2 linked regions of the Homo sapiens genome follow. The protein of the gene in region 1 interacts with the protein of each later gene in a pairwise test. Each region holds a gene or a part of one and is shown in the gene's direction. Other genes may lie near its edges.

Region 1 (5,186 bases):
GAGCCACCGCGCCTGGCCGATGATTTTTTTAAATTAAAATATAGGTATGAGCTTTCAATATGAAGATGCTTTACTTGGCTGATATTCCCAGCAAATCTTGAAGTGATATATATGAAAATTAAGAGCCCTAAACAAATATAAATGAAAAGTTTTCTGCTAATTCACTTTTAAATTTTTACTTAAAAAATAAAACTATTAATGTTTCTCTTAACTAATATGGCAGTTAATGGTAGCATTATGCAGGCATTTTCCTGACTTAAAAAGTTTCATACATACAAGTAGAATGGTTGTTAATCTTGAGGATAGACCTCCTATTAACAAAAACAGTTACTTCAGATAGTTTGTTTGTAGTAGAATCATAAATCCTCAAGTGTATTTTATGTACCTTGCTTGATACCTTCAAATTATACTGCATGTTAATGTTCTAAGATTTGAAAAATAAAGTATGTTTATTTTAGATTGGGTATAGTTTCTAATGCATGCTGTATACTATTCATTTATCAGTGGTGTGCTTAGTATGTGAAAAGCATTTGAAAAACGGAAAGATTTCATTAAATTCTAGCAAGATGTTATGTTCAGATTAACTTTTCCAGTGCATGTTTCTCAAAGAAATAGTGGTAACAGGGTAAGTTAAGATGCATGCTAGTTTCATAGTTTTAAAAATTATAGTGCTTATGAATCTGTGTTCTTTTAGGAAGGTGCTGGATGGATGCTTTGGAGTTGGCTTTGAAATGTTCTAGTCTTCTTAAACGTACAATGATCAGAGAAGGAAAGGAACATGACCTGAGCGTTTCATCAGATAGCACACATGTGACTTTCTATGGCTTACTACGTGCTAACAATCTCCACAGTGGTGATAACTTCCAGTAAGTAGATACTGCCGCTGAGTTGGTAATGTTTCAGAGACCATACTGTTCACAAAATTAGTTGGCAGGCCTAGAATTTTAGTAGTGTATCTAGGACTGAAATTTGCATATCTTCCCATTATATGGCCTAGGAACCGGCTTAAAATTTGTTTAGCTGCTATAATCAGGTGTAGAAATGTATTTCCTTGATTCCAGCCAACGTGATTTACTTTATCTTTCCCAAATATAGCCATGCTAATTATTCACCTTGTCTGTGCATGATGTCCCTTCTATTAAGAATGATTTCTGCCTACTCCTCCTTACGCTTTTCTCCTGTCTATATATTCTTCAAGATCAGTCTCAAATATTACATCATGTGTGAAACCTTATAACTATGAGACATAATCTGTCTTTCTATAGAGTAACATGTTTTTAGTAATGGCACTGGACTTAACTCTACCTGGTATTTGTGAAATTCATTTATATTTCTGTTTGGAATGGAACTGTATCCTATTTGTGGTTTTATTCCCTGAAGCATTTATTGTAGTTAACACTAAAAAAGCATTTCTCCAAGGAAACTGGGCAGTAGTGCAAAGACTTTCTTGAGATTCAGGTCTTTTTGTTGCTTTGCAGGAAAAACATTAGACTTTTCTATTTCCTCCCTGTCCCCACCCCTTGGCTTCTGCTCTGTAACCACTTTCATCAGCATTGAGGTTGCTCTTCTCAAAGTTAGACTGCTATTCTCCTCTTCTTCATATTGCCTGATTTAGACATTTCTTCCCTATCATTTTGCTTGTTTCTTTTTTTTTTCTGTCTGTATTACTTTAAAAAATTTTTTAGAGCCAGGGACTCACTCTGTTGCCCAGGCTGCAGTGCAGTGGCACAATCATAGCTCACTGTAACCTGGAACTCCTGGGCTCAAGCCATCTTCCAGTCTCAACCTGCCCAGTAGTGAGAACTACAGGCCTGTATTACCACACTGGGCTGGCTGGCTGGCTTATCTATTTATTTATTTATTGAGACATAGTCTCACTATGTTGCCCAGGTTTTTTTTCTTTTCTTTTTTCCCCCACTCTCTTTAAAATCTCCATTACCTGACCTTTTATGTTATTTCTTTGCAGACCTACGATCTGGAGCTTTATCTTAATCCCAAGTACCTGGTGCCCGAATGAGATAGGATGGAATGGGGTGGGCTACTGATAGAGGAATGGGTATTTGTTGGAACCTCTTTCCAAGACTTTCCCCCTTTTGTACAGATTTTTTGCCCTAATCACTTTAAGTGAGAATAGGGTAGATTAAGCAAAACTTACTTGATTTTAGTCCATAGGTTAATTTCTTTCAGCTGAAATTTTCATTTTTAATTCTCTCTGGATTTTGGCTCAGGATTAAACCTTTCAGACGAATAGAATTTAATATAATTGTTTATCATTTACCATTTTCATATATTTTTCTTGGACTCATGTGAGGTGACTTTGGAAACCTTCTTATACAGGTGGAAAGTCATAATTTATTTGAGTTCAGTTGAGAATCTGATTATCTGGACCTGCATTTTTTCTTCATACCATAAGTGACAGTGAGATTGATGCAAGTGATGCTGTTTGAAAAACTAAGAAAAATATCTAACAAGAAGTCTAAACTCTTGGTTTTGGAGGATTTTAGCCCCAAGTGGTAGAGAGGCAAAGAGCTCAGAGTGTCATCTTTTTGCATTTCTCTAGGTTTTTAATTTTTCTATGCCTCTGTTTACTAATCTGTAAAATGAGAATAATAATACTACCTATCTCATAGGGTTATTTTGAAGATTAAGTGAATTAACACTATGTAAAACACTTAGAACACTGTCTGGCACATAGTAAATTCTCAATAAATGTTGTATATAATTATTATTTATGAATTGAGCATTCTTAACATCCTTGATTCTTCCTCCTAAAAATTCTTTCCCTTAAGGTTAAATGATAGTGAAATTGAACGACAACATTTTAAGGACCAAGATATGTATTCTGATAAATCTGATAAAGAAAATGATCAAGAACATGATGAGTCTGATAATGAGGTGATGGGGAAAAGTGAAGAAAGTGACACAGATACATCAGAAAGACAAGATGACTCATATATCGAACCTGAGCCTGTTGAGCCTTTAAAGGAGACTACCTACACTGAACAGAGCCATGAAGAACTTGGAGAGGTAAAAGTCTGCTATTTTTAGAGGTTCTGGATTTTCATATTCTTGGGAATTCTTAAATGAAATTGAAGATATTATTTGCTTGATCTATTGCCTATTTTTCTGTGATAGAATGTGATATTTTAAAAATTGCATACATATGAAATATATTGGGATTTACAAACAACTAAACACATATACTCACATAAATACCAATATATTCTATTAAATTTAAAGTTTACATTTTCTTCAAGCTTGATTTTGAAGTAGGATATTGCTTGATGTCATTGCCAGGTGCAAAGTTGCAAGGAAACGTGAGTTTATAACTTTGTTATTGCCAGTGCATCATAGAAGTAAATGTAGTATAAAATAATAGGCTATAATATTTTTGTAGTGGATCTCTTGTATATATTGTTCACTTTGATGTCTTTTTCAGCTACCCTTTTTTACCTAAGTTTTATAGCTATAGATTTTATTATTATTTTTTGTTTCCACATTTAAAGAATGCTTGGAGTAGTCCTGAGAAGAGTTCATATTTTCAACATTAGCTGGCTTGTTTACATATCTGTCTGAAATAAATATAATGTTTTGGTAATTTTCATTAATTGATAAAGGCAGGTGAGGCTTCTCAAACAGAAACTGTATCTGAAGAAAACAAAAGCCTTATCTGGACACTATTGAAACAAGTCCGTCCTGGCATGGACCTATCCAAGGTGGTTCTGCCTACATTTATTTTGGAACCCCGTTCTTTCCTGGATAAACTTTCAGATTACTACTATCATGCAGATTTCCTATCTGAGTAAGTAGATTCTTATTTCTTAAAATAGACAATACTTCATGATTTTAGAAATTCTCAAGAATGCTATTTTCAATTATCGTTTGTTTCCAAAATCAGGCTCTAATGAGACATCACTCTCTGTTCTCTACCACTTCTGTGGTTGACCCTTAGTAAGAAGCATGTTTGATACTTTGCTATAATGTTGCCATTTATGAAGTTAAATTGAGATATCATAAGCTCGAGGAAAACAAGAATTCTACCCTTTACTCAACAACACTGCCGTTATAGGCTCCTTAACCTCAGTTCACTAACCTAACAGAGAGAGAGAGGTGATTGGCATCATTTGTTCTCCTCTACAAAAACACTTGTTCAGTCCCATCCTGGGGCATCTGTGTTTGCTCATACTTGTCTGTCTGCATGCTTGTGAGGTATGTACGGCTTACCAGAACTAGAATGCCCTGCCAGTTGCTAGCTTTTGGAACAAATCCTTATTTTCTTTGCTTTTCTGAAGCCGCCAGCTGATCCTGGGTGTAATTTTGAAGAAGGCACACCTAAAGGAGGCAGAGGAGGTGCTATCCACCTCTGTCCCAGCAATTTCTTGGAAAACCAGTAAACTTTGCAAGGAACAGCAACTTTGTGTCCATGCTTCCAATTCTTACCTGATGCCCCTATTCCAGCAATAATGGTGTTTCAAGGCACTGTGCTTTCTGTGCCACTGATATCTGGCCCTGCGACCTAATTTTTAGAATCTTTATCAAGACTTATTTTCGGTTTTTGTCTATAAATGGCATGAGCGAACATTGAAAAAAATAAGCTGAGTCAAAAAATAATTGGTAAACTGGGAAATTTTTGCAAATTTCATCGTAGACAAAATGTTAACCTCCCTAAAAAAAGCTCTTAAAAATTGAATGAAAATGATTCTATAGAAAAGGAAACTTACAGAAAAAGGAGTGGAAGAAATTACTGGGCAGTTGGAAAATGAAGAAATAGGAACAGTCCTTAAACATGTAAAAACCTCATGCAAAATAAGGAAAATGTACATTTGAATTATAGTAAGTTATTGTTGTTTATCCACCACATTGACAAAAAGTCAAAAAGCTTTTATATCCTCGTTCTAATATCTTCTGCACTTTTGTCGGTCTAGAAATTCATTTCTCTCAGAATGTAAGGCAAATTCCTGTGAATCACAAGATTTTCTTGAGAGATGCCCCCTGTCTCAAATAGAAAGATTGTACTTTTCTGGCATTACACACTGTTGCCAAGATTCTGTTGGCAATCAGGGACTATCATACACTACCGTGGGCAGTGCAGACTAGCACAGCACCCTGAAGGTAATCTGGCAGTATTTACCAAAAGTATAGATGCATTCATCATTTGATCCACTAATCTCACTTCTCGGAATAAC
Region 2 (5,186 bases), on another chromosome or scaffold:
CTGGGCTCAAGCAGTCTGCCCACCTAGGCCTCCTGAAGTGCTGGAATTACAGGTGTAAGCCACTGCACCCAGCCTCATGTACATTTTCAAAGGCTTTATAGCAGTTAAGCCTTTTACTTTATAATAGATAACCATTCTGATTCAGAAATAATTTGAGACGAGTGCTATCTTGAAATGAATTAACTTCAGCTAACTATTGAATCAAAAGCTTGACATTATTTCTACTTAGAGTTACTTATTTTTATCTTTTTTCAAACTTAGAATCACTTTAATTACATTTCTAACTGTATGTGTTTTGTAAGAACCGCTTAACAATATCCTTTGTCCTGATGCTAGAAATTGTTTGATAGTGTTGACACTGTGCAATCTATTTAAATAGATTTGTGGATTTCTCCTATGTCCACTGAATAAAAACTCTTGGTTTTACTTGAGTTTATTACACTATTTTCCTACAGTTCAGAATTTTTTTTTAAGTAACCAGCAGCATATGTTACATATTTTGACAACTTAAAAAAAATCAAAAATCTTCAAAAATGTTTTGGAAGAATAACAAGATTTTTTCATCTTACCTTAAAAAAAATTAAGATGAGAGGTGAGTAGTTATCCTAGGAAACTCTGAAGTAAGCAATATAATTTAAGCAAAACCTCTATATTCTTCAACAACTATCTTTTTTCTTTAATCTCAATAACTGCCTCAGTTCTCATTTTTGTGAGTATAAATAACAGGCCCCCTTTTTTATTTAATTGGGGTTAAAGTCAATTTTATAGGAAATTTCTAGTTGATCTGTGACTTGAATTACTAGCATATATGTTACATTTATAAGTACAGCTGGGGCTGGGCGTGATGGCTCACGCCTATAAACCCAGCACTTTGGGAGGCCGAGGCGGGTGGATCACCTGAGGTCAGGAGTTCAAGACCAGCCTGGCCAGCATGGTGAAACCTCATCTCTACTAAAAATACAAAAATTAGCTGGGCGTGGTGGTGGGCACCTGTAATCCCAGCTACTTAGGAGGCTGAGGCAGGAGAATCACTTGAACACCTGGGAGGTGGAGATTGTAGTGGGCCGAGATTGCACCCATTGCACTCCAGCCTGGGCAACAGAGTGAGACTCCGTCTCAAAAAAAAAAAAAAAAAAATCAGCCAGTGGCGCATGCCTGTAATTCTAGCACTTTGGGTAGCTGAAGTGGGTGGATCTCTTGAGCCTAGGAGTTTGGGACCAGCCTCAGCAACATGGTGAAACCCTGTCTCTAAAAATGTATATAAATTAGCTGAGCATGGTGGTACACTCCTGTAGTCCCAGCCTCTTGGGAGGTTTGAAGTTGGAGGATCGATCACCTGAGCCCAGGAGGTAGAGTCTGCAGTGAGTTGTGATTGTGCCACTGCACTCCAGCCTGGGCAACAGAGTGAAACCCATCTCAAAAAAATAAAAATACATCAGAATGTTTTATTGTACAACCAATTTCATTGGTACATACAAAAATGTAATCAAAACAATGGACTTTTTTTGATGTTTTAAACAATTTTTTTTTTAGGAATTAGTAGAAAGAAAATAAGGGAAAGAAAATGGGGTTATGTTTATGAATACTTAAATAGACCAGAAGTAGAAAACTGTGGTTTGCTTGCTGGCATTGAGCTGTATTAGGATATTAAATGTGTAGGGTCAAGTTCTGTGATGATTCAATCTTTGCCTTGTATTGATGGCATGTCCAGATCTCTTTGTTTTTATGGACATTTTTTGCTTTGCTGATGTGACTTCAAGATTTGTAAGTTTTTAATTTTATTCTTAGGTATGGAGAGAAAAACAATGCATTCATTGTTGCCAGCTTTGAAAATAAAGATGAGAACAAGGATGAGATCTCCAGGAAAGTTACCAGGGCCCTTGATAAGGTTACCTCTGATTATCATTCAGGATCCTCTTCTTCAGATGAAGAAACAAGTAAGGAAATGGAAGTGAAACCCAGTTCGGTGACTGCAGCCGCAAGTCCTGTGTACCAGGTAACCATGAAAACAGCTCAGTTTTAAAGGGATGTGCAGGGATTGCCAGGACCTTTCAGGTAGTCCTACTTGGCATTGCCCAAGGTTTCTGACTTGAGATTCTGGATAATAGTTCTTGCCTTTCCCCATGCTAAGGGAAAGCTGTTTCTCTGGCACGTAAATAGGCATCCTGAGTCATTTTATCAAAGGTCAGCTTCACTATACAATAACTAGGATAAATATATTTCAGAAAAATTGGCAAAAAGTAGAAAATTCATGATGGTAAAACATTCCTGATATTTTAAAATCTCATTCAAAAGTTACCACTTATTTTTTGTAGTATGTAACACTTTGTTTTGTACCTTTGGGTTTAACTTTCTATTCTCTCCCGTTCCATGATTAAAGAGAAACCTCTCTAAATTTATTATATTATAATTAATATTTTACTCAAGCTGAAACATTGTCTCCCTTTTTGCTTTACTAGTTGAAAAGTCATATAGCTAGTGTGCCTGCACTTACAGATCCATTCACTGATTTACTATTTATATCTACATACCAAAGAACATTTAATCGACTTTAAAAAATTGTTGACCAAACAGCATTCTTCAACAGGAAAGATATTTTAAAGTCATAACAATTTAAAGAGATTTTTTGAGTTGAGCCTTATTCTGTAAATGTACTTATTACTAATTTTTAAAGGTTATCTATTTTTACTTACTTGCTTTGATTAAATGTGAAACATACCAGGTTTGTGGTAAGGTTGAGCTGAAAATGAAAATTTAGACCTAATGAGTAAGAAGCAGAATATTGGAGCTTTTAGTATGATAAACTAAACTTTTAAATTCAGCATACATTTACATAATGAACATTATTTCAGTGTAACTTAATTTTTGGTTTTCTCATTTTTTTCTCAGTTGAATTATTCTTCCTAGACTTTAGGGGAAGATTATTTCTGAAGATTATCATAATTTAGGATTCTATGTATATGTGTATGTATATGTATATGTATATAACATGTACCTGGCTTTATGAAACTTCAAACAGTACAAGACAGTATAATAGTGAGAAGTCCTCTTTCTCCCCAACCACCAGTCCCTATGCATTTCCACAGAGACATTCATTACCAGGTTTTTTTTTCTTTTTTTTAGTATCCTTCCAGAGACATTCCCTATATAAATAAGTAAACATAGTATTTGTACTTCAGGATCATTTTTAAAAACCTTGCCATAAATATTTGAGGCATTTTTTTTCTCTGTGTGATGGATTATATATTGCAAATTAGGTATATTGAATTTTCTGGAATTCATCCAAATGTGTGGCAATTTTACCTCAGAATTTTATTTGTTGTTAAGCAAGAATGTAAGTCTCAAATTAAATTGATTGCTGCTAATTTTTTACAAGCAAATTAACCTTTAATTTTTAGGATTTCTTTTAAAATTAAATTGCATTTATTTTCCCTCATGTTGAAAGACTATTAGGATAACAGAAAGGTATGGAAATTGAGGTGTCTCTTACGTGCTTTTTAAGGAAAACATTTCTCCTTGGCCTAATACTCATTAGCAAAACATTTTATAATAGAGAAACACTACTTGTGTGAAAGCTAGTGCAAATGGCCCACTTTGATTTTCTTCTTTCTAGTATCTTGAATCTGGCATTGCCACAAGCTTTAAAAAAGTTTTATCAAATAAGGACAACAAAATTTCTAGCTTGGAATTTTTGTTCTCTACTGTTTTCTAAAAGGTATCCCAAGAGAGGGGATAAAGAATTATTCATATCTTAAAAAACGAAGAAATGAAGATTGTGTCAGTTCTCCTGAAATAGATCTGTAGATCCAATTCAGTATCAATGAACATCTTAAAAGGTTTTTTTCTGGAAAGTGACAAATTGATTCAAAATTTTAAAAAAGGAGGATCAGTTGGAGGGCTCACACTAATTCAAAGCTATTATATATTCATCAAGACAGTGTGGTAATGGTTTAAAAACATACAAATATATTGATGGCACAGGATAGAGAGTCCAGAAGTAGACCCACATACATACAGTTAGTCTTTTTTCTCCCTTTTAACAAAAGTGCCAAAGCAATTCAATGGGGAAAGTCTTCAAGAACTTGTGCTGAAACAACTGGATGATCTGTGTAGGAAAAAAAACGAACCTAACTTAGCTGACACCATACACAAAAATATTGATTTGAGATGGATTGTGTACCTAGACATAAAAGATAAATCTCTGACGCTTTTAGAAGAAAACATAGGGAAATATAATCTTTATTTTGTGACAGGCAAATATTTCCTCTAGAGGGTCACAAAAAGTAACTAATAAGGGAAAAAAATTGACAAACTGGACTTCATCAAAATTAATCATCTTTTTGTTCATCAAAGAAACCATTAAGAAAATGGGCAAACCATAGACTAGGACAAAATATTCTCATTACATATATCTGTAAAGGACTTATTTCCAGAATATACTTTTTTTAAAATCGCTCACAAATCACTAGTAAAAGGTAAATGATTCAATGAAAAATAATGGGCATATCCTGCTGTAATCTCAAAAAAAGGGCAGGAGGAGCAAAAGATGTGAATAAACACTTTACAAAAGGAGTTATGTGAATGGCCTCATTTATGATCAGAGGAATGCAGATTAAATCCATATGAAACACTAGTTCTTCCAGAACTGCACAATTTAAAAGCCTGACAGCATGAAATGTTAGCAAGGATGTGAAGCAGCTAGATTCATAAACTTGCTAGTCATGTAAAATAGTACCACTACTTTGGAAAACTGGAACTTTTTAACGTTAAATGTGTAACTCTTCTATTACTCAGCAGTTCCACTCCTAAGTATTAAATATTTACCAAAAGAAACGAAAATATGCCTATAAAGCCTTCTATTAGAATTAACTGTGCTGTTATTCATTGCAGCATTGTTTTGTTCGTTGTGTATCATTGTTTTTTTAATAGTAAGAGACTGAAAACAGCCTCAATGTCCCATTACTAGGAGACCATTTAATTTATAGTCATTGCTATACTATCTAGCTGTAGAAAAATGAGAAGGATCTTTATGTATTGATATGTTTCTGAAATGTATTATTATGAAATGTAAAAAGCAGGATACAATCCAGTATACATATATATTTTTAAAGTGTGTATAGATGTGGATAGAATATCTCTAAAGGTATATTTAAAAAAATGTTTGGTGTCAGTTGCCCTTGAGAAGG

What was found. The genes of interacting proteins can lie anywhere in the genome.
Region 2: the proteins of OSBPL8 (region 1) and BTG3 interact in a two-hybrid assay, tested with the Homo sapiens proteins (one large-scale study listed by BioGRID and IntAct).

Annotation. Positions count from the first base shown.
Region 1 is NC_000012.12:76,388,261-76,393,446, reverse strand, and holds part of OSBPL8 (oxysterol-binding protein-related protein 8), read left to right. Parts: intron 1-694; coding exon 695-866; intron 867-2,789; coding exon 2,790-3,027; intron 3,028-3,617; coding exon 3,618-3,802; intron 3,803-5,186. UniProt on the Homo sapiens protein: Lipid transporter involved in lipid countertransport between the endoplasmic reticulum and the plasma membrane: specifically exchanges phosphatidylserine with phosphatidylinositol 4-phosphate (PI4P), delivering phosphatidylserine to the plasma membrane in exchange for PI4P, which is degraded by the SAC1/SACM1L phosphatase in the endoplasmic reticulum.
Region 2 is NC_000021.9:17,595,427-17,600,612, reverse strand, and holds part of BTG3 (protein BTG3), read left to right. Parts: intron 1-1,788; coding exon 1,789-1,996; intron 1,997-5,186. UniProt on the Homo sapiens protein: Overexpression impairs serum-induced cell cycle progression from the G0/G1 to S phase.